3 linked regions of the Homo sapiens genome follow. The protein of the gene in region 1 interacts with the protein of each later gene in a pairwise test. Each region holds a gene or a part of one and is shown on either strand. Other genes may lie near its edges.

Region 1 (7,443 bases):
AACTTCTCTGGGTGAAGAAAAGATCACATTTTTGGATATAGATATAAAATCTGGGTGAACTGAGGCAAACAGAAATTAAGAGTCTGCACTTCGGAGTCAGACTGTTGGGGTTTAAGTCCCAGCTTTCTCACCTGCTAGGCAGGCAGCACTGGGTGTTTCTTAAGGTTTTTTAGTCTCCAAGCCTTTAAAATGGGATAAGAGTATACACCTCATAGGGTTGTTATGATGAGAAATAAATGAATATGTGAAAAAAATGCCTGAAACATATAAAACATGGTATAAATGAATGCTTTTTAAATAAAACAATTCTTTTTAGCATGGATAGTGGTTTTTTTTGTGTGTGTGTGAGACAGGGTCTCACTCTGTCACCCAGGTTGGAGCCTCAACATCCTGGGCTAAAGCAATCCTCCCACCTCAGTTTCCCAAGTAGCTGGGACTAGAGGCACGTGCCACATGCACCCAGCTAATTTTTAAATTATTTTGTAGAGATGAGGTCTTGCTATATTGCCCAGGTTGGTCCTGAATTCCTAGTGTCAAGTGATCCTTCTGCCTCGGCTTCCCAAAGTATTGGGAATACTGGCATAAGTCATCACACTCGGCAAAACAGAATTCTCATTTAAACTTCCTTTGCAACGTTACTTCCAAAGACTTGCCTCTTTCACCTTCATCAAAGAAAAAAGACTTACTGACAATTCCTGAGAGACTTTTACACAGAAATGTTTAAAACAGAACTTTTTATACATTATAATTCTATAAGCTCTGCCAAATTTATATCAAACCTTTAACTGAATTTCAAAGTGAATGGTGTAAAAGATGACCACAAAGATTATCAAATGAATACTTTATTAGAGACATAACACGTATAAAATAAATTTCTTTTCATCATGGAGTTACCAGATTTTAAAACCAACCAACACTTTCTCATTTTTACAGCTAAGACATGTTAAATTCTTAAATGCCATAATTTTTGTTCAACTGCTTTGTCATTCAACTCACAAGTCTAGAATGTGATTAAGCTACAAATCTAAGTATTCACAGATGTGTCTTAGGCTTGGTTTGTAACAATCTAGAAGCAATCTGTTTACAAAAGTGCCACCAAAGCATTTTAAAGAAACCAATTTAATGCCACCAAACATAAGCCTGCTATACCTGGGAAACAAAAAATCTCACACCTAAATTCTAGCAGAGTAAACGATTCCAACTAGAATGTACTGTATATCCATATGGCACATTTATGACTTTGTAATATGTAATTCATAATACAGGTTTAGGTGTGTGGTATGGAGCTAGGAAAACCAAAGTAGTAGGATATTATAGAAAAGATCTGATGTTAAGTATAAAGTCATATGCCTGATTTCCTCAAACCTTTTGTTTTTCCTCATGTCTTCTGTCTTTATATTTTTATCACAAACCAAGATCTAACAGGGTTCTTTCTAGAGGATTATTAGATAAGTAACACTTGATCATTAAGCACGGATCATGCCACTCATTCATGGTTGTTCTATGTTCCATGAACTCTAATAGCCCAACTTATACATGGCACTCCAAGGGGATGCTTCAGCCAGAAAGTAAAGGGCTGAAAAAGTAGAACAATACAAAAGCCCTCGTGTGGTGGGAACTGTGGCCTCACTCTTACTTGTCCTTCCATTCAAAACAGTTTGGCACCTTTCCATGACGAGGATCTCTACAGGTAGGTTAAAATACTTTTCTGTGCTATTCAGCCAGAAATAGTTTTTGTGCTGGATATGATTTTAAAACAGATTTTGTCTGTCACCAGTGCAAAAACATTACAGATGTCTGGGCTAATACAAAAACACATAAGAATCTACAACTTTATATTTAATACTCTATTCAAATTTAACTCAAAGTAATGCAAAATAATTAGAAGTAAAAACTTAATTCTTCTGAGAGCTCTATTTGGAAAAGCTTCACATATCCACACACAAATATGGGTATATTCATGCACAGGGCAAACAACTGTATTCTGAAGCATAAATAAACTCAAAGTAAGACATCAGTAGCTAGATACCAGTTCCAGTATTGGTTAATGGTCTCTGGGGATCCCATTTTAAGCACTCTCAGATGAGGATCTTGCTCAGTTGTTAGACTATCATTAGTTTGATTAAGCAACTGAAGTTTACTTCATAAATTACTTTTTCCTATATCCAGGACTCTGCCTGAGAAATTTTATACATTCCTCCAAAGGTAAGTATTCTCCAAAGGTAAGTATTTGACTATTAACACAAAGGCAATGTGATTATTGCATAATGACACTAAATATTATGTGGCTTTTCTGTTAGGTTTATAAGTTTTCAATGATCAGTTCAAGAAAATGCAGATCATATATAACTAAGGTTTTACACCAGTGGTTGACAAACTATGGCCCACAGGCTAAACCCAGCCTCCCCTTGTTTTTATAAATAAGTTTTATTAGAACATAACCACACTCATTCATTTCTGTATTGTGTATAGCTGCTTTCACGCTATACTAGCAGAACTGAATAGTTGTGACAGAGACTGTATGGACCGTGAAGCATAAATATTTACCATCTGGCCCATTCTAAAAAAAGTGTGCCAATTCCTGGTTTACACTAAAATATAGAGTTTAGTGGGAAGCCTATTTGAAATGTGTTTTTTTTAGGGGCTGTAATTACCAATTAAAATTAAGGTTCAGGTGACTCAGCAACCAAACAAAAGGGATACTAATTTTTTATGAACAATATATTTGTATTTTATGGACATAAAAGGAAACTTTCAGAAAGAAAAGGAGGAAAATAAAGGGGGAAAGGGAAAAAGGGGAGAGATGTAAAATAAAAGGCCATTTCTTTAATATCATAATAAAATTAACATTCCATCCATGAAATAAACCAGAACTTGAGCTTAGAGTCTCTCTCTACTAAACACATTACTTTTGGAATGTTTTTGCATCTGGACAAAATGGTATCCAAATTGATCAGACATATAAAGTAGACAAGTGAAACTAACATACGACTGCCAGTTTCTAAGGAGTGTTACGGTCGCCATCTTCGTAAAGCCAGACCCAAACTGCAACCATAACAAGCTGTCGTCATAAAGGCAAAAATCTAAGAAAAAAGAAACAAAAATTCACATCAGATTTACAACACCGACTTATAAACAGTGTCCTAAAGAACAACCATATGAAGTTTGACCAACAATCTACCTAAAGATACTTCGACACTTACAAAAATATTTTACATTGTTTTTTTTTTTTTGATGATTTGTACAACTGTTTTATTCCCTCATACAATTACCCTCCCCCCTTCCTTTAAACATTTTAGCTCCTAATAATTTTCTCATTTGTGGACAACTTTACACTGAACATTTGTTCAATCTGTTCACATTCTGGGCTCACTTAAGTATTTGTGAATCCCTAAGCACTGTATTTAAAAATTCAGCATGAAGTTCTGTTCATGTAGTGGCTTCACAGCCAAGGAAGCCAGCAACTATCAGAACCTGAGGATGCATCAAATAATTTCTATGATGATGGAAGGTAACTTTAAAACTCAACTAAGACAAGTGGAAATGAATTATCAGGTTGGCTTGCTCTTGTATGGGAGACAGTCCTGTGTACAAATCTGCACTCTACTTGGAATTAATGAGAATTTCTTCAGCACCAACTGTGTGTATATCACTATACTTGGTACATATAAACAAACAGTAGATAATGTCCTCACCCTTTTGGGGCTTATGATCCATAGAAGACTAAAAGACAAAGCAAAAGCAGTTCAACATGATAAATGTTTGATAAATGTTGTGGGTTTAGCACAGGGATTCTTAACCAGGAAACCAGTTCTGGGAAGGAATACCAGATTCACCTATAGACCATTTTCACAGTTTACTATTCTGCTTTTCTTTCCACCCTTCTTCTGCTGATTTTTTCTCTGATACATTTCTAATCTAGACATTGTTTTCTGAATGACAGCAATAGCTTTTGATACCTATTTTTTGATACCTATTATTTGATACCTATTATTAGGGAAAAGGAATTTTCCTCTCTAATTTCCCAAATGGATGGCTAATACATTTTAGTTACAATAAAACTCAAACTAGAGATTTACTTAGACTGGAGTGAGCATATGGATGAAATGGGATGTAATGTTGAACTTGAAGCATGTAGAGGTTTACTGAGACAGCTTCACTTAGAAAGGGAAGGACAACAGGGACAAAGTCACAAAAGAGAAGCAGCCAGAACAGAACTACATTATGGAGAACACGGAAAACTAGGCCCTTAGGACAAAGGTGACAAATTAAAGACCTCAGACAACCATCACGTATTTCAGCAGCTACTATTCTTGTGAAAGTAGGTTCTAGGGTGACTGTCAATAGATTTGGGGCTACTTCAATGATCCAAGATACAAGAATCTAGCCTGCACCGTTAAAATGAAGGGACTGGAAGTAAGAAACACATAAAGGCAAATACAATGGGAATTGATGACTAATAGCATAGGAAAGTCCCTGAACTTTGCTTTGTAAAGCTGTTAAAACCAAGGGTTTTCTAATGTGGATCACAAGGATTCTATCATCCTCAGGGATGATATGGGTGGGTAGAGGCAGCTTTATGAAAAGAGAATGAGCATCATTCAAGGCCCTCTTCCTCCACTTCAACTAGAGCACTTACACTTTTATCTTCTAGATTTATTGGGGTTTTAGGTAAGAATTGATTAAATAAAACCTTTATTTCTTTTATAAGCAAGTGTTAAAGTCATGAATCTACACTATAAACCTTTCAAAGCTAAAACCATGACTCCTTTTTGTTGTAATCCCACCTTCAGCCTAATTCATTGCAGGCACTCAATAAATTTTGACAAATCCTACCAGAGACTTGGGAAACTTACAATAGGTCTTGAAATCATTTGTCTTGTACCCCTCAAAACTCACTCTAGACATGTATTATCTAACATGATAGCCACTAGGCACATGTGATTATTAAAATTAAATAACACTAAAAATTCAAGTTCCTTAGTCATACTAGTTATCTTTCTCTCCCCCGACCAGAGTCTTGGTCTGTCGCTCAGACTGCTCTGCTCACTGCAACCTCCGCCTCCTGAGTAGGTAGCACTACAGGCACAAGCCACCAGGCCTGGCCAATTCTTTATTCTGTTTTTTTTCCTTTTTCAGAGACAAGGTTTTGCTATGTTGACCAGGCTGGTCTCAAACTCTTGGCCTCAAGCAGTCCTCCCACCTCGGCCTACCAATGTGCTGGGATTACAGGCATGAGCTATGATTCCTTGGCCTAGTTAATTTTCAACTGCTCAATAGCCACATGAAGCCAGTGGCCACCATTTTGGACAGCACTTACATGAAATATTCCTGTCATTATAGAAAGTTCTACTAGACAGTGCTGCTCCAGACAGATTTCAATGACTATATGAGTACTGGGTTATTTATAGGCTACCTGGGGAACATAATAAAACATTAGGGTCACTAACTTGCCATATACTTATATTAAATATCACAATATTTCAGAAACTAATTTGGACTTCTGACATCTTAACAATGATCTCTAACAACAAAAATAATATATTATTTCCTCAAATTATCTACACAAAATGACAAATTCACTCCAGTATACGAATTAAAGATGATTTAAAAAATTTAATAAATACCCCAAGGAATATATTTCATCTGCCTATCATCTACTGCAATGGCTGGCATATTTGCCTCCCTTTCTCACCTGCACTTTCCTTAATGGCAGGAACTGCAACTTATTCACCCCATCCTCAACACCCAGCAAAATTACTTGATAAATGGTAGGCCCACAGTAACTATTCATTCAATAGAAATAAATTGCAAGCAGCTATTGAATACTAAAGAACAAAACTGGAAATCTCCTTTACCATCTCTGAAAGTTATCAGAAGCAAAAAACACAACTCTTTTTGCAAAGTAGACACTGCTGTGCAAAGCCAAGCAGTCCTACTGGCTTGCTATGATCTTACATGAACATCAACCTCTTCGTGCTACAGTTTAATCATCCACAACACTGGGGGTGATCATGGCACTTTGCTTACAAGGTTATTGTACAGATAAATAGCTATTACATATTTAATGCCAATGGCTAGCATTGAAGAAAACTATTGTTGCCTGAGGAGTTTCTTGGAGGCCTTGACAGTGGAGCGGAAGTGCTGGTGAATGGTACTCATTGAATATGAATACTTACTGAGGCTGCTACGTTTATGTTATACTGGTTATCACTCAGGAGTGGCTGCCCGGTTATGGTTGTATTGCAATGCAAATCATGCAGGGATGTGGCTGCTGCTTCCAATAAAAAGGCTCCAAAATAGAAGACAAATACTGTAAAATGGTAGGCAAAATCCTAAAAGAGGAGAGAAAAGACATCTGCAATTAAAAAAAAATATTTTTCTGTTCCTTATTTTAAATAATGAAGTTTAGGTTTAGCAAGATCAAAACATTTAATTAAACAATCTTAACTATATTCACTGTTAAGCTTAGCTGCTTTAGAAATGTTAGACTATCAGAACCCAAGCGAAAATCAACTGACCCATCTTAATTGGCACATTGGTAAACCTTTCCATATACTGAATTTTATAATATGTAATTTTATTTTTTTATTATTATACTTTAAGTTTTAGGGTACATGTGCACAATGTGCAGGTTAGTTACATATGTATACATGTGCCATGCTAGTGTGCTGCACTCATTAACTCATCATTTAGCATTAGGTATATCTCCTAATGCTATCCCTCCCCACAACAGTCCCCAGAGTGTGATGTTCCCCTTCCTGTGTCCATGTGTTCTCATTGTTCAATTCCCACCTATGAGTGAGAATATGTGGTGTTTGGTTTTTTGTTCTTGCGATAGTTTACTGAGAATGATGATTTCCAATTTCATCCATGTCCCTACAAAGGCCATGAACTCATCATTTTTTATGGCTGCATAGTATTCCATGGTGTATATGTGCCACATTTTCTTAATCCAGTCTATCATTGTTGGACATTTGGGTTGGTTCCAAGTCTTTGCTACTGTGAATAATGCCGCAATAAACATACATGTGCATGTGTCTTTATAGCAGCATGATCTGTAGTCCTTTGGGACCCAGTAATGGGATGGCTGGGTCAAATGGTATTTCTAGTTCTAGATCCCTGAGGAATCGCCACACTGACTTCCACAATGGTTGAACTAGTTTACAGTCCCACCAACAGTGTAAAGGTGTTCCTATTTCTCCACATCCTCTCCAGCACCTGTTGTTTCCTGACTTTTTAATGATTGCCATTCTAACTGGTATGAGATGATATCTCATTGTGGTTTTGATTTGCATTTCTCTGATGGTCAGTGATGGTGAGCATTTTTTCATGTGTTTTTTGGCTGCATAAATGTCTTCTTTTGAGAAGTGTCTGTTCATATCCTTCACCCACTTTTTGATGGGGTTGTTTTTTTTTCTTGTAAATTTGTTTGAGTTCATT
Region 2 (7,000 bases), on another chromosome or scaffold:
AGGGAAGCAGGTTTGTGAGAGCTCTGAGGCAGAGTGGTCAATGATTAAGAGCTCAGACTCTGGAGCCAGGGTGCCTGGATTCAAATCTGATGCCTGCCTGTTACAGCTGTGTGGCTTTTGGCAGGCCGTTTAGTCTCTTTAAGCCTCAGCTTCCTCAGTCTGTAAATTAGAGATGATGGAATGCTTGCATCGTGGGGGTGTTGTAAAAATTAAATGAGAATTCACATAGGTGCTTGGCAAGATACCTGGCCATGGCTTAAGTGCTCAGTGAATATTTATTAGAAGTGTGACTGCACGAGCATTGGGTGAGGGCAGAGGGAGGTAGCTCCCGAATCCTCCAAATGGCTTTTAGATGGATTGCAGGGAGGCTGGGCAGATGGATGAGTGGCAGAGTGAAGCCTGGGCATGAGCCTTGCAGAAAGGCTGCCCTCTGACCCAGCTTTCTCGGTGCCTCCAGGTGGAGAACCGGCCCCTGCCTGGCCACACACAGCTTCGACTGCCTGGCTGCCCCACCCCCGTGTCTTTTGGCCTCCTATTTTCTGTTGCCTTCCCCGTGGATGGAGAGCCTGGTGAGCATAGTACTCTGCAGGGTCACCCGTTTACCTCCATTTTTCCTGTTTTCTGAAGCCCATGTTGGGCTGCTAGGAACCCATCAGTCCATCTCTCACATGTACCTTGGTAGTGTTCACCTCAGCGTGGGCACTTACCCAGGGTCTTCTGGGGGATGTACAAAAAGTGCATGTGGTCACTGCCCTTTGAGAGTGTGGTGTGATTCTTCAGGAGTGCGCTACCCAGGAAAGAGATCAGTTCTAAGGTATGTTTTGTTTTGTTTGTTTGTTTGTTTGTTTTGAGACAGAGTCTCACTCTGTCACCCAGGCTGCAGTGCAATGGCACGATCTCGGCTCCTGCAACCTCTGCTTCCCAGGTTCAAGCGATTCTCCTGTCTCAGCCTCCTGAGTAGCTGGGATTACAGGCGCGTGCCACCAGGCCTGGCTAATTTTTGTATTTTTAGTAGAGACGGGGTTTCACCATGTTGGTCAGGTTGGTCTCGAACTCCTGACCTCGTGATCTGCCCGCCTTGGCCTCCCAAAGTGCTGGGATTACGGGCGTGAGCCACTGCACCTGGCCTCTAAGGTGTGGTTTTTACGGTAAATGTTCTGAAGAGCTCAGAGAAAGGGAAGACAGATGAGCTGGAATTGTCAGTGGAAGCTTCTTGTAGGAGCTGGTGCTCCCCCTGAGGAATGTACAGCATTTGTGATTAGGACACTGAGAATCCCCAGTGTCCTCTGGGCACCCAGCAAGAATTCTATTATAGTTGCTTTAATTAATGCTGCCCCCATTTCTTCCATGCAAATTATCAGGGAATTCTTTAGCACCAGAGACCCTCTCAGACCTCTGGTCATCAGCTTATGGGAAACCCTGGGTTCCTATAAACACTGCTCCTACTTTTTTCTAGTCACTCCTGGGGGCCTCTTCCACCTTGACTACTCCCTGCCCCTTCCCCTTTCCAGTTCTACTGCCTTTAGCTATGTTGGCAGTGAGAGGTGAGGATGATGACCAGCTGTAAGTGTTTAAATGTTTATCTTCAGATGCAGAGGTTGTGGTAGGAACCACAAGGCCAGAGACGCTGCCTGGAGATGTGGCTGTGGCCGTTCATCCAGACGACTCGCGATACACAGTAATACCCAGTGCGCTCCTGCACTCTGGCCCGCCCCGCCAATGGCCTTCTCTTCTCTTGGGTTTTAAATGGTGGCTCTTTCTCTCTTGCTTCTACTTCCTTTTCCTGAGACTTCTCTCAGTGGTTCTGATTGGACTCCCTCCTCCTCTTATAGTTTTTCTGTAGCTCAGGGGTTGACAAACTGGCCCATGGTCCTAATCCAGCTTGCGGCCTTTTTTTTTGAGACAGAGTCTCGCTCTGTCACCAAGGCTGGAGGGCAGTGGTGTGATCTTGGCTCACTGCAACCTCCACCTCCTGGGTTCAAGCAATTCTCCTGCCTCAGCCTCCTGAGTAGCTGGGAGCGTGGCACCATGCCCGGCACGTGCCACCACACCCAGCTAATTTTTTGTATTTTTACAAAAATTAGTAATTAATTTTTTTTAAGTAATGTAATTTTTAAGTAATGTTATTTAGTAGAGACGGAGTGTCACTGTGTTAGCCAGGATAGTCTCGATCTCCTGACCTCGTGATCTGCCCACCTCGGCCTCCCAAAGTGCTGGGATTACAGGCGTGAGCCGCCGCGCCTGGCTGCTTGCAGCCTTTATATTATCTATGGCTGCTATTATATACCCTCTCCAGCTCTGCTGCAGTGGCATAATAGAGTAATTGTGCTGAGAATGAATTTGTCTCTAGGCCCAAAAGCCTAAAATATCTACATTCTGGCCCCTTAAGAGTTTGCTGACCTTGCTCTAGCTTGCTACCTTCCACTTTCTACCTTCTTATTCCTGGGGTTCTCACGCCCCAGCCCAGACCCTTCCAACCCTCACAGGTGCCTGTCCTTGATCCCTCTCCCTTCCCTTCAGCATCTACACGGGCGACAGCTTCGTCACCCCTTGATGGGGCAGCCTCTTCCCCTCATCACAGACTATGCTGTTCAGCCACATGTGGGCACGGGTGAGTGGAAGTCAGGGGAGGGAGAGAAAGTTGGGGGTCCTGGAGGAGAGGGGAGGGAACCAGGAGGAAGAGGAAGGTGGGAGTGGGAGATCCTCATATAGGGTGGTCTGAGTGGGGAATGGGAGGGAGGCACAGACAGAGAAAGTCGCAGGGGCTGGGGCGGTGCAGGTGATGATGATACATCTGGAAAAGCAAAAGCCAAGGTCAGGTTCAGTACTCACCATGGCTGTGCTCCCCAAGGGGCAGTGAAGGTGACTCCAGCTCACAGTCCTGCCGATGCTGAGATGGGGGCCCGACATGGCTTGAGCCCCTTGAATGTCATTGCGGAGGATGGGACCATGACCTCCCTCTGCGGGGACTGGCTGCAGGTGGTACCACCCTATGTTACCCCATCCTTTGGGGGCTCTCTGTCCCCCTAATCCTCCTCCTAGTTTCTTATTTCTCTAGAGGCCTTCAGTCTTTACTCTTGCCGCTTTTTCTCCAGGGTCTTCACCGGTTTGTGGCCCGGGAAAAGATAATGTCTGTGCTGAGTGAATGGGGCCTGTTCCGGGGCCTCCAGAACCACCCCATGGTACTGCCCATCTGCAGGTAACCTCATTTTAACTCCTTTACTAAGGGCTACCCCAAAAGGGAATGTATGGAGCTTAAGGGTGACAATAGGATGGGCTCTGCACCCCTCCGTTAGAATACGAGCTCCGTGTCGGTTTTATTCGCTATTGTATCCTCAGTACCAAGGGCCTGGCATGGCATGGGGTCTTGTGCCCCTGGGAGAAGTCACAGGGCCGGAAGAGCAGTGGACTCACCCTGTCTCTCTTTCAGCCGTTCTGGGGATGTGATAGAATACCTGCTGAAGAACCAGTGGTTTGTCCGCTGCCAGGAAATGGGGGCCCGAGCTGCCAAGGTGAGGCTGCAGTGTAGGAAGGACTGGGGCCAGGGGTTGGGGGAGCTCCCTGAGAATTGGAATGAAGAAATGGGAAGCAGGAGACCTCCTGCCCTGAAGACCTCTCCAGCTGTGGTAACTGAGAGGATGTGTGGGATGGAGGCTGGGCGGCCCAGCAAGGGCTGGCTCATATCCTTACTCAAGCCCAGAATCTTGGCAAGAGGCTTGGGAGGTCCTTTCTGAGTTTTAAAATGACCTCAGAGGCCACTCGTCCTATCTGTGGAGGTGCGGCCGTGCAGGAAGGGCAACATTGTCTAAAGTCCCCTTTCTCTCCAGGCTGTGGAGTCGGGGGCCCTGGAGCTCAGTCCCTCCTTCCACCAGAAGAACTGGCAGCACTGGTTTTCCCATATTGGGTAAGGGTAGGGTAAGGGGAGCTCTTGTGGAGATGGGGAGGGGGGACTGACTGGTTATTCTAAGACTTCACGAATGTCCTCCCGGCAGGGACTGGTGTGTCTCCCGGCAGCTGTGGTGGGGCCATCAGATTCCAGCCTACCTGGTTGTAGAGGACCATGCGCAGGTGGGTAGGAAGAAGCACCCGGAGGGCCGAGTGTGGCACAGAGCACCTAGCCCAGGAGTCAGAGCTCCGCAGGGCCAAGTCCCGCTCCTGCCTGGTCATGTGCTTCATGCTCATAGTCATGTAACCTTCTGCGCGATCAAGGCTCCCTGAAGTGGCATTTCTTTATCTCACCCCTGGGGGAACCTGGCCACTCTAAGACCACATGAGGACGTGAAAACCAAGTGACATTTACACCTGTCAGCTGTTCTTCCTCACTCTCCCCAACCCCTTCCTACTTTTGCAGGGAGAAGAGGACTGTTGGGTGGTTGGGCGGTCAGAGGCTGAGGCCAGAGAGGTAGCAGCGGAACTGACAGGGAGGCCAGGGGCAGAGCTGACCCTGGAGAGGGGTGAGTGCCTGAGCTGGGGAGGGATGTACAGGGGAGCGGGGGCCTGGGCATCTGGGCCTTTGAGGGGAACAGATCCCAAGATACAGAAGGTAGGGTCAGGAAAGTTGGGAATGGAGCCAAAGGGGACAGCCCTGGTCTCTGGGGGTGGGGGTTGGCCTAGAATGGTGGCAGCAGTGGTCTGAGGTCCTAGAAGCCAAGGTTCCAACTGTCCCCATTCTTTTTCTGTTTCCCAGATCCTGATGTCCTAGACACATGGTTTTCTTCTGCCCTGTTCCCCTTTTCTGCCCTGGGCTGGCCCCAAGAGGTGAGGTGGGTTGAGAGGGCGAAAGTGAAGGGGAAACGATAAGGAAGGGATGGCTGGGCCCCCACAGAGGCTTGAGGGGGGCCTGGGGCCTGGGCCTCTTACTGCTCCTCTTCCCCCTAGACCCCAGACCTTGCTCGTTTCTACCCCCTGTCACTTTTGGAAACGGGCAGCGACCTTCTGCTGTTCTGGGTGGGCCGCATGGTCATGTTGGGGACCCAGCTCACAGGGCAGCTGCCCTTCAGCAAGGTAAGAGCCCTTCAGTGCCCTGCCGCTTTCTGTGACTCCAGTGTTCCCCAAACCTTGTCCTCCCTTCTAACCCCTAATGTGGTCCTTTCCACGTTGCTGATTCCTTTTTCCTAATTCACTTCCTACCCTACCCCCAAAAGTATGGAGGCCAGAGATCCCAAGGCACCTCCAAGGAAACCCCCCTCTGTTGACCCCTCCCTGCCCCCAGGTGCTTCTTCATCCCATGGTTCGGGACAGGCAGGGCCGGAAGATGAGCAAGTCCCTGGGGAATGTGCTGGACCCAAGAGACATCATCAGTGGGGTGGAGATGCAGGTGAGGACGAAGCACCCACTAGAGGGACAAGGTTTGCAGGGTTTGCAGGAGAGAGGAAGGCAGGCTGAGGGAGGAGTGAGGCCAGCAGGTGTGACCCTTATAGAGGCAGGGCCTTCGACCTGGGTCGTGAATTGCCCCCTTCCATCCCCAGGTGCTGCAGGAAAAGCTGAGAAGCGGAAATTTGGACCCTGCAGAGCTGGCCATTGTGGCTGCAGCACAGGTGAGTCATCGCTGCCTGCCCCCCACCAGCTCTAGCTCACCACCTCTGGCTTCCTCTGCAACCCAGGTCCTGGCCCTGCAGCCACAAAGGCATCTGCCACCCTTCTTCTTCCTCTGGTTGCAGAAAAAGGACTTTCCTCACGGGATCCCTGAGTGTGGGACAGATGCCCTGAGATTCACACTCTGCTCCCATGGAGTTCAGGGTAAGCCTGGGCGAGGGGTGTCGGGGTGAGCAGAGGGCAGCGGGCACCTGTGCAGGGGCAGGGCAGGGGCAGGACTTCTGGTGCTGCTGCCACCTACATGCAGACTACCTCGATTCTTCCCTTCCAGCGGGCGACTTGCACCTGTCAGTCTCTGAGGTCCAGAGCTGCCGACATTTCTGCAACAAGATCTGGAATGCTCTTCGCTTTATCCTCAATGCTTTAGGGGAGAAATTTGTGCCACAGCCTGCTGAGGAGGTAAGAGAAAACAGAGGTGCTTGGGAGTAGGGTAGTCAGGTGTCAGAGGGCCAAGGTGGCATCTGGAAGGAAAGGAGGCAGGGGAGGGGGAGTCAGGCCATCCTGCCCCCTCTGCCTGCAGCTGTCTCCCTCCTCCCCGATGGATGCCTGGATCCTGAGCCGCCTTGCCCTGGCTGCCCAGGAGTGTGAGCGGGGCTTCCTCACCCGAGAGCTCTCGCTCGTCACTCATGCCCTGCACCACTTCTGGCTTCACAACCTCTGTGACGTCTACCTGGTGAGTGAGGCTGGGGGAGGCTTGGTATTCCCATGCCTGCTTCTAATTCCTCTGGAAATTTCCAAGGCAGAGAGCTCTGGAGTTAATAAGTTCCCAATTGTCCCCTCAGTTAGGAGAGGAGAGGAGACGAGGGAGTCTCAGTTCCCCTCTTCCTGGGACTGGTTTTGGCAGTGCAGCCCAGGCACTGTTGCCTGCCTGTCACCTGGGGAGAGGAGGAGGAGGGAGACTTCTAGAAATGTCTGACAAGTCGGTGTCAGAAGGCAGAGGGGAATTTTTTCAGTCCCTGTAGTTGCTGAGTTTGGCCCATGGGCAGGCTGCGTGCTGAGAGAGGCCTGGGAGGGACTAGCAGCGGTCTTTAGACCAGGGGTTCTCACGCTGTCCTACGTCCAAAGCACCTGGAGGGCTTGTTGACGGTGGATCCCCCCCGCTCCACTGCCACCCCAGAGTGGCTCCTTTAGCAGGTTGGGGTGGGGGTGGGTGGTGTAATGAATATTCATTTCTTGTCCCAAGTGGTGCTGCTGCTGCTGGCTGTGGACCACTGCCCTAGCTCAGCCTTTTAAAAACCTCTGTCCCCTGTTGATAAGCAAAAAACTCAATGATTTTTTTCCCTAAACTACATGTTTCCCTGGAAATCCTGTCCCTGTGTACTGCAGAGAATTGCTGTCCTGGAGTCCCCTTCTTTGTGCTGAGTGTGTCCTGGGACTGTGGATCATATCAGAAGTGCTAAGTGCT
Region 3 (7,593 bases), on another chromosome or scaffold:
TCATTTGCATACTCTATAATGAATATTGTTTGGGTTTTTTTTTTTGTGTCACAACATTTATTTGGAAGTTTCTTTCTTTCTTTCTTTCTTTTTTTTTTTGAGATGGAGTTTTGCTCTTGTTGCCCAGGCTGGAGTGCAATGGCGAGATCTTGGCTCACCACAACCTCCACCTCCCAGGTTTAAATGATTCTCCTGCCTCAGCCTCCTGAGTAGCTGGGATTATAGGCATGCACCACCTCGCCTGGCTAATTTTTTATTTTTAGTAGAGACGGGGTTTCTCCATGTTGGCCAGGCTGGTCTTGAACTCCCGACCTCAGGTGATCCGCCCGCCTCAGCCTCCCAAAGTGCTGGGATTACGGGCGTGAGCCACCGCGCCTGACTGGAAGTTTCTAATGACATTTTATGTTTATTAAAAGGTTGCATGAGGCCGGGTGCAGTAGCTCATGTGTGTAATCCTAGCATTTTGGGTGCCCAAGGTGGACGGATCACCTGAGGTTGGGAGTTTGAGACCAGCCTGACCAACAAGGTGAAACCCCATCTCTACTAAAAATACAAAAAACTAGCCAGGAGTGGTGGCACACGCCTGTAGTCCCAGTTACTTGGGAGGCGGAGACAGGAGAATAGCTTGAACCCAGGAGGTAGAGGTTGCAGTGAGCCGAGATTGCATCACTGAACTCCAGCCTCGGTGACAGAGCGACACTCTGTCTCAAAAAAAAAAAAAAAAAAAAAAGGTTGCATGAATTAGGGAAGGTTGAAATTTATACTGAAGTGGGGAGATGTGTAGTTGGAAGTTCTTTCAGCAGAAACCTCCCACATGGGACATGTGGCTGCAGATCGGCATCCCGGGGTTGCTGTGGGTAGTGCGGGCAGGAGTACCAAGGAGGTAACCTGTGGAGGGGGCGTGGCCCTCTCCTTTACTGTCTGGCTCTGCTCTGCTCATCTTCCCCAGGGACACGCAGGAATGGTGGAGAGGAGCACTTTGTCCCACTGTTCTCCAATCTTGGATAACAGGGGTCTAGATCCAATGCTGGAATTTCCCAGCTGCTGGTTAGGTGGCTTAATGGGTTAAGCAGGGACTAGGTTTGAATTATTTTTGAGGCTCTGAAATTGACAGTGGAGCCCAAAGGCATTCCTGTTGTGGGCATGGGGTACTGGCATTAGTTAACTCTGGTGGAGAGGCAGGGGTGGCTGAGCAGAAGGGGTATGAAGGATGGGTCTTGATTTGTAAATGGCCTACTGTGTGACTTTAGGAAGATTCCTTAACCTTTCTGTGGCATGGTTTCCATAGTGGGTAGAAGGAGGAGGGATAATGTCTTTGAGGTATTTCTAGAGTCTGTTAATGGCTAGGGCCCATCATCGTGGTGAATCACCTAAGACCCAGGGAAGAGTGGCCCAGGGTGGGAACTGTCTGCCTGTGGGCCACATCACCCCTAGTCTGGTCCAAGGAGCTCCTGCCAGGCTTTCTCAGAGGGTCCTGGACTCACTCCCCTGGGGCAGGCCCGGGGAGGCTGGGGACCAACTCTCCGGCCAATGCCGCTTGGCCAGGGAACAGATGAAGGGGTGGGGGATAGGAGCTTTCTGGAGCCTGCACTCCTCCCTGGCTCCTGGGTCCCAGCCCTGGAGCAGGAAGGAGGGAGGGAGGGCCAGTCTTTGTGTACTTTACAGATCACAGCTGCCTTGAGCAAACGATGCCAGCTACCCACCCAGCTCGGTGATTCCACCAAACACAAACAGCTGCCTAGCCTGGCCACCTCCTAGGCAAACAACCCAGCTGGTTTGCAGGGCAACAAGGTCAGGCAGTCCCCCTCAGCCTGGGGCCTGGCCAACAGCAGCTCCTCCTCTCCGAGGGTGCAGGGGCCCATTTCCTGCCACAAGCCCACACAGGACGCCTATCTCAACGGCTCTGGGCGGATGACTTGCAGGGTGGCTTCCCCCGAAACACTGGGGTGGAGGCTGAGGCTCCCAGCAAGGGTGAGCCCTGGTGTCGGGGAGGAAACCGAGGCCCAGAGAGAGGCAGGTCTCCTTCAAGGCCATGCAGCGGAATCCAGGACAGCCCTCACTCCATCCCCAACCCTGCAGAGGAAGAGTGGAAGCTCTAGGCTCCCTCAGCAGTTCTTTCAGTTTCTGGTACCCGCTCACTCCAAGGACACAGATGGAAGGCGACAGACCAGTCCACTGCTGTCCCTACCTGTTTCCATACAGGACACCCCTGTAGAGGGAGCAAGCCCCAGAGAGCAGCCCTGGAGCTCTCTCAAGTGCGGGATGCGAAAGACCAACCACTGAAATCTTTCTCAGGTTCGAAAAATTCCCAAGTGACCTGCAGGCCGGCTGGCAACATCCTTCTGGGAGGAGCGGCTTCCGACTGCAGGGAGGAAGGTGGGAGGCAGTGCCTCCAGCGGGTGGAATGGGAGGGGAGCAGCTGGGGGACATCAGGCCTTAAACCTGGATGTCAGATCTCAACTAAGAGCTTAGCTCGGAAAATGGCATTAACGCCAGTTCCTCTGCCAGCAGGGGACGTCCTCTCCGAGTCTCCGTTCGGTCCCCATCTCCCAGCCCTTCCCAGCCTGAGCCCCGAGAGTTGCGCGCTTAACCCTCACCAAGAAGCATGGGCTCCCGGGGGCTCATATTTGCCAGAGTGTGGCAGAAGAGAACTGAGTTGGGGCCGGCGGGGGGATCACTCAGTTTTTGCGATCTTCCGCGACCCGCCCCCACCAAGCCAGCAGAGACACCTAGAGCTTGGGACGGCCCCAGAGGCTGTGTCCTGACCCTCTCTCCCTCCCTCCTCTGGGAGACGCAGCTGCCTGGGGGAAGGGCTGAGTCCAACCCAGACGCAGCCAGGAAGGGGCTAGCGCCGAGGAGGGCGGGGGTCTCACGGAAGAGGCCCACCCACCTTGCCCGTGAGGTCGTAGCTCGGACTGCAGGGCGGGGAGCGCTCGGGGGCCTCGCCATCCCGGGTGGCAACGGCGCCTGGCGTGCCCGTCATGTCCCTGGACGAGAGGTGAGCAGTGCCGGCCCGCAGGCGAAGGAGAGCGCAGGAACGGCCCCACCCCCGCCCCGCCCACTCCTCCCCTCCCTCGACCGGGACCCCTCAGGCTCCTCCCTCCGTCCCGTCGCCCCCTCGACGACACCGGCTCGGACCTTGCTGTTCCCTGAGGGCACGCAGAGCCGCAGGGTCTGCGTGAAGGGGCGGGCAGCCTCCCTGAGCAACACCGGCTCGGCTCCGTGCGCTTCGGACATGAGCCACATCCAGCCCCGGGACCGGTCCCCTGTGGTCGCTTGCTTGCCCCTGGGGGAGCGGGCCGCGGGGACCCCGTCTGCTGCGGAAGAGTTCCCGTAGTCGCTGCGCACCGCGACAGCAGGCGGCGCCCGAGCCCCGGGCCGTGGGCTGTCCCCAGGTGGCGAGGCGGGGAGCTGGGGACCCCTGGGCTGCGCCTCCGCCGATGGCCCCGAGACACTTCCTCATCTGTTAAGTCACCCGGCCCGAGCTCATCTGAATATAGTTTTGTTTACCAACCCGTACTCGCCTTGCAGCACATGTACGCTGCGGTGTTTTGGGGCCTCTGCCTGGTGCGGGGACTTTGACCCTTTAGTATGGATCACCTCTCATTTCCCCCGGCCTGTTGGTTGTGCCCAGAATGTCCCACCAGGGGAGAGCTTTCGCAAGAGGGCTGCGCAGCACACATCTCCCAGTGGACCGCTCCTGAAGGCGGGGCCGGCCTTATTAACCCATGACACTCACCCTGGCCCCGAGGAGGAGCCAAATAAATTCATGAAGTCGTAGATCATTTTGAGCAGAGCTGCCAGGATATCCCAGGCACCCGGCAGCTCCTGGTGACAGAGAGTGGGGAGTGCAGCTGGGGTTGCCGGTAGCAGAGCTCAGGGGCTCTGTGGCCTGGGCCGACCTTTCAATTACCCCCATCTCCACATTCTATAAGCAGCTTCAAGTTACCAAGGAACAGGGCGGGTGCATTACAGCGGGACGGTTTGAGGGATGTGTAGGGAGGGGAGAGCTGGAGAGGGGTACCTGCACTTTTTTTTTTTTTCAGACAGAGTCTCACTCTGTCGCCCAGCCTGGAGTGCAGTGGTGCGATCTCGCCTCACTGCAACCTTTGCTTCCCGGGTTCAAGCTATACTCCCGCCTCAGTCTCCCGGAGTAGCTGGGATTACAGGTGCGCGACATCAGGCCCGGCTATTTTTTCTTTTTGTATTTTTAGTAGAGACGGGGTTTTGCCATGTTGGCCAAGCTGGTCTCAAATTCCTGACCTCAGGCGGTCCGCCCACCTCAGCCTCCCAAAGTGCTGGGATTACAGGCGTGAGCCACTGCGCCCGGCCTGCAATTCTTAACTTAGGTGTGGAGGTGAGGAGCAGGGGTAGACGTGGCTTATGGGCCACCATAGGCCTGTGGGGACTGACTTTGTACGCCAGCCTCCAGCCCTGTATTTTCTGACATCAGCTGGAGGTATTTTCTGTCAGCTGGGAGAAGCGCCCAGAGTGGGGACAGAGGTGATCTCCAGTAGAGTAAAGAGCTTGGGTTACCTCTTCTGGAGGTGAGCGTGCTATAACCTCAGCTGGGCATAGGGCGGGACTCAAACAGGGAGCCTCAGACTGGAGTGTGGAGGCTGCGCAGCACACTACAGAGGCGTGGTGTTGGTTGCTATTTGGATGCCAGAGGCTCTTGCTGCAAATAATGCCGAGGTTTGCTCAATGCCGTGGGCTCCCGGAGACGGAGTCTCACTCTGTCGCCCAGGCTGGAGTGCAGTGGCGGGATCTTGGCGCATTGCAGCCTCTGCCTCCCAGGTTCAAGCAATTCTCCTGCCTCAGCCTCTGGAGCAGCTGGGACTACAGGTGCACGCCACCACGCCTGGCTAATTTTTGTATTCTTAGTAGAGAACTTCACCATGTTGGACAGGCTGGTTTGGAACTGCTGACCTCAGGCGATACGCCTGCCTTGGCCTTCCAAATTGCTGGGATTACAAGCGTGAGCCACCGCACCTGGCCTGGTATGCGGTCTTTTCTCTCCCCTTCCCTCCCCTCCCCTCTCCTCCCTTCCTCCCTCCCTTCCTTCCTTCCTCCCTCCCTCCCTTCCTTCCTTCTTTCCTTCTTTCCTTTCTCTCTCTCTCTCTTCTTTCTTTCTTTGCCTGCCTGCCTTCCTTCCTTCCCCTCTCTTTTCCTTCCTTCTTTTCCCTTTCTTTCTCTTTCTTTCTTTCTTTCTTTCTTTCTTTCTTTCTTTCTTTCTTCCTTCCTTCCTTTCTTTTTCTTTCTTCCTTTCTTTTTCTTTCTTTCTTTTTCTTTCTTTCTTCTTTCTCTCTTTCTTTCTTTCTCTTTCTTTCTCTCCTTCCTTCCTTCCTTCCTCTCTCTCTTTCCCTTTCTTTCTCTCTGTCTCTCTTTCTTTCTTTCTTTTTGTTTCTTTCTTGAGGTGGAGCTCTGTCATCCAGGCTGGAGTAAGTGGCACGATCTTGGCTCACTGCAACCTCCGCCTCCCGGGCTGTTCAAGCCATTCTCCTCCTGCCTCAGCCTCCCAAGTAGCTGGGATAACAGGTGCCCATCATCATGCCTGGCTAATTTTTGTATTTTTGTAGAGACAGGGTTTCACCATGTTGGCCAGGCTGGTCTTGAACTCCTGACCTTAGGTGATCCGCCTGCCTTAGCCTCCCAAAGTATTGGGATTACAGGTGTGAACCACTGTGCCCAGCCAGGATGCGGGTTTTCATTGCAGGAGGGAAATGGTGGAGGAAGAATGAGAGAGGGGACAGGGCATGCCTCATGCTCACCTTCTACTGTAAACCATGCTGTTATGGGTTGAATTCTGTCCCCCAAAGACAGGTTGAGGTCTGAACCACCAGTACCTCAGATCATGCCCTTACTTGGAAATGTGGTCATTGCAGATATCACTCATTAAGATGAGGTTATACTAATATAGGGCAGGCCATTAATCCAGTATGACCGGTGTCATAAGAAGAAAGAGACACAGGGAAAAGACATCCAGGTGAAGACAGAGGCAAGATGGGAGGAGTGTGGCTGCAAGCCAAGGAATGCCAAGGACTCCTGGGAGCCACCAAGGCCATGGAAGAGGAAGGAATGACCCTTCTCTGGAGCCTTCAGAGGGAGCGTGGCCCTGCTGGTACTTTGAGTTCAGATTTCTAGCCTCCAGCTGTGGTTCACGTTGTTGGCTCCAAGGCCCTCTTTGTCCTATGGTGGGTTTGGAATACAGAAGGTTGAACATTAGCACGAATCATCCAGAAGGAGCAGTGGCCTGAAGCACTTCCCTGCTGCGTTGCTGCACTAGTCTGGATGGAGGAATCTGACCTAGGGAAGAAGTCTTTGAACATGGGGAGAGGGGCTGCAGGCCTGCTGGGTCTGTGGTATGTGGGTAATGTCATACTTGGAGGGTGCGTACACTGTCCCCAGGGCCACTGTAATGTCCTGTAGGGTGTTCAAGGGCAGCCTCGGGTGAGTCAGAAGTGGGTTAGGGTCTAAGACATTCAGAACAGGGAACAGGGGCTGTGCAGAATAGGGACTCACTAAGGGATCCGTGTGGTCTCTGGGGAGGAAACCTGGGCCTCCTAACGTTCACTCTGAGGCTGTGTATGCGCTGTGGTAGCCTGTGTCTCTCCCCAGACACACACCACAGACACTCACACGTGTGCACCCACCCACAACACACCACAGACACACACACCTCACCACACACACACACCTCAGACCATACACACCTCACCCCTCAAATCACACCACACACCTCACCACACACACCTCAAATCACACCACACACCTCACACCACACACATCCCTCAAATCACACACACCTCACATCACACACATACACTCTCAAATCACACCACAAATATACACACACACCCTACATCATACCACACACATCTGCCTCACATCATACCATAAATACACATGCCTCACACCCTACATTATACCACAAACACACACTTCATAACATGTCCCACACACAACTTTGTATTATGCCACAAATGTGCACCTCATACTATAAACAAACACACCTACCATCATACCACATACATACACATCTTACATGACCCTCAAACACACATACCTCATTTCACTCCAAACACACACTCCTGTCACCACAGTGCAGCTCCAGGCACAGTTTATTTCACACCATCAACACCTGTGCCACATCACTGTGCAAACACCTGCCTCTCCAATGGACCCCATGCCTCACACCATCACCAAATGTGTATATCACCCTATAAATGACCCCCAACACCTCTTATTGCCTCCAGATCTGAGACGCACACCCCCACAATACCCCCAAATAGACACCCCTACCCTCCTGATCACAGATCACACTGTCATTGTCATGCAGCCCTGCTGATAGTGGAGGTACCAAGTGTCAGTGAGACAGACCCTCATGCGTGTTGAAAGATGGGGGGGCTCTTGTGTACACCTGAAACCACACACACACACCTCAAATCACGCCACACACACCTCACACCACACACACCTCACCCCTCAAATCACACCACACACCTCATCACACACACCTCAAATCACACCACACACGTCACACCACACACCCCTCAAATCACACCATACACATCTCACGCCACATACACACAC

What was found. The genes of interacting proteins can lie anywhere in the genome.
Region 2: the proteins of MAL2 (region 1) and VARS2 interact in binary tests that used the Homo sapiens proteins (3 or more experiments, as listed by UniProt).
Region 3: the proteins of MAL2 (region 1) and RAB37 interact in binary tests that used the Homo sapiens proteins (3 or more experiments, as listed by UniProt).

The regions. Positions count from the first base shown.
Region 1 is NC_000008.11:119,239,057-119,246,499, reverse strand, and holds the end of MAL2 (protein MAL2), read right to left. Parts: intron 6,336-7,443; coding exon 6,180-6,335; intron 3,084-6,179; coding exon 3,012-3,083; 3' UTR 827-3,011; downstream 1-826. UniProt on the Homo sapiens protein: Member of the machinery of polarized transport. Required for the indirect transcytotic route at the step of the egress of the transcytosing cargo from perinuclear endosomes in order for it to travel to the apical surface via a raft-dependent pathway.
Region 2 is NC_000006.12:30,917,238-30,924,237, forward strand, and holds part of VARS2 (valine--tRNA ligase, mitochondrial isoform 2 precursor), read left to right. Parts: intron 1-457; coding exon 458-569; intron 570-1,589; coding exon 1,590-1,678; intron 1,679-2,520; coding exon 2,521-2,611; intron 2,612-2,851; coding exon 2,852-2,979; intron 2,980-3,095; coding exon 3,096-3,199; intron 3,200-3,430; coding exon 3,431-3,512; intron 3,513-3,827; coding exon 3,828-3,904; intron 3,905-3,992; coding exon 3,993-4,068; intron 4,069-4,351; coding exon 4,352-4,454; intron 4,455-4,687; coding exon 4,688-4,758; intron 4,759-4,878; coding exon 4,879-5,004; intron 5,005-5,212; coding exon 5,213-5,317; intron 5,318-5,468; coding exon 5,469-5,537; intron 5,538-5,660; coding exon 5,661-5,739; intron 5,740-5,866; coding exon 5,867-5,994; intron 5,995-6,115; coding exon 6,116-6,268; intron 6,269-7,000. UniProt on the Homo sapiens protein: Catalyzes the attachment of valine to tRNA(Val) in a two-step reaction: valine is first activated by ATP to form Val-AMP and then transferred to the acceptor end of tRNA(Val).
Region 3 is NC_000017.11:74,732,663-74,740,255, reverse strand, and holds the start of RAB37 (ras-related protein Rab-37), read right to left. Parts: upstream 3,001-7,593; 5' UTR 2,984-3,000; coding exon 2,891-2,983; intron 1-2,890. UniProt on the Homo sapiens protein: The small GTPases Rab are key regulators of intracellular membrane trafficking, from the formation of transport vesicles to their fusion with membranes.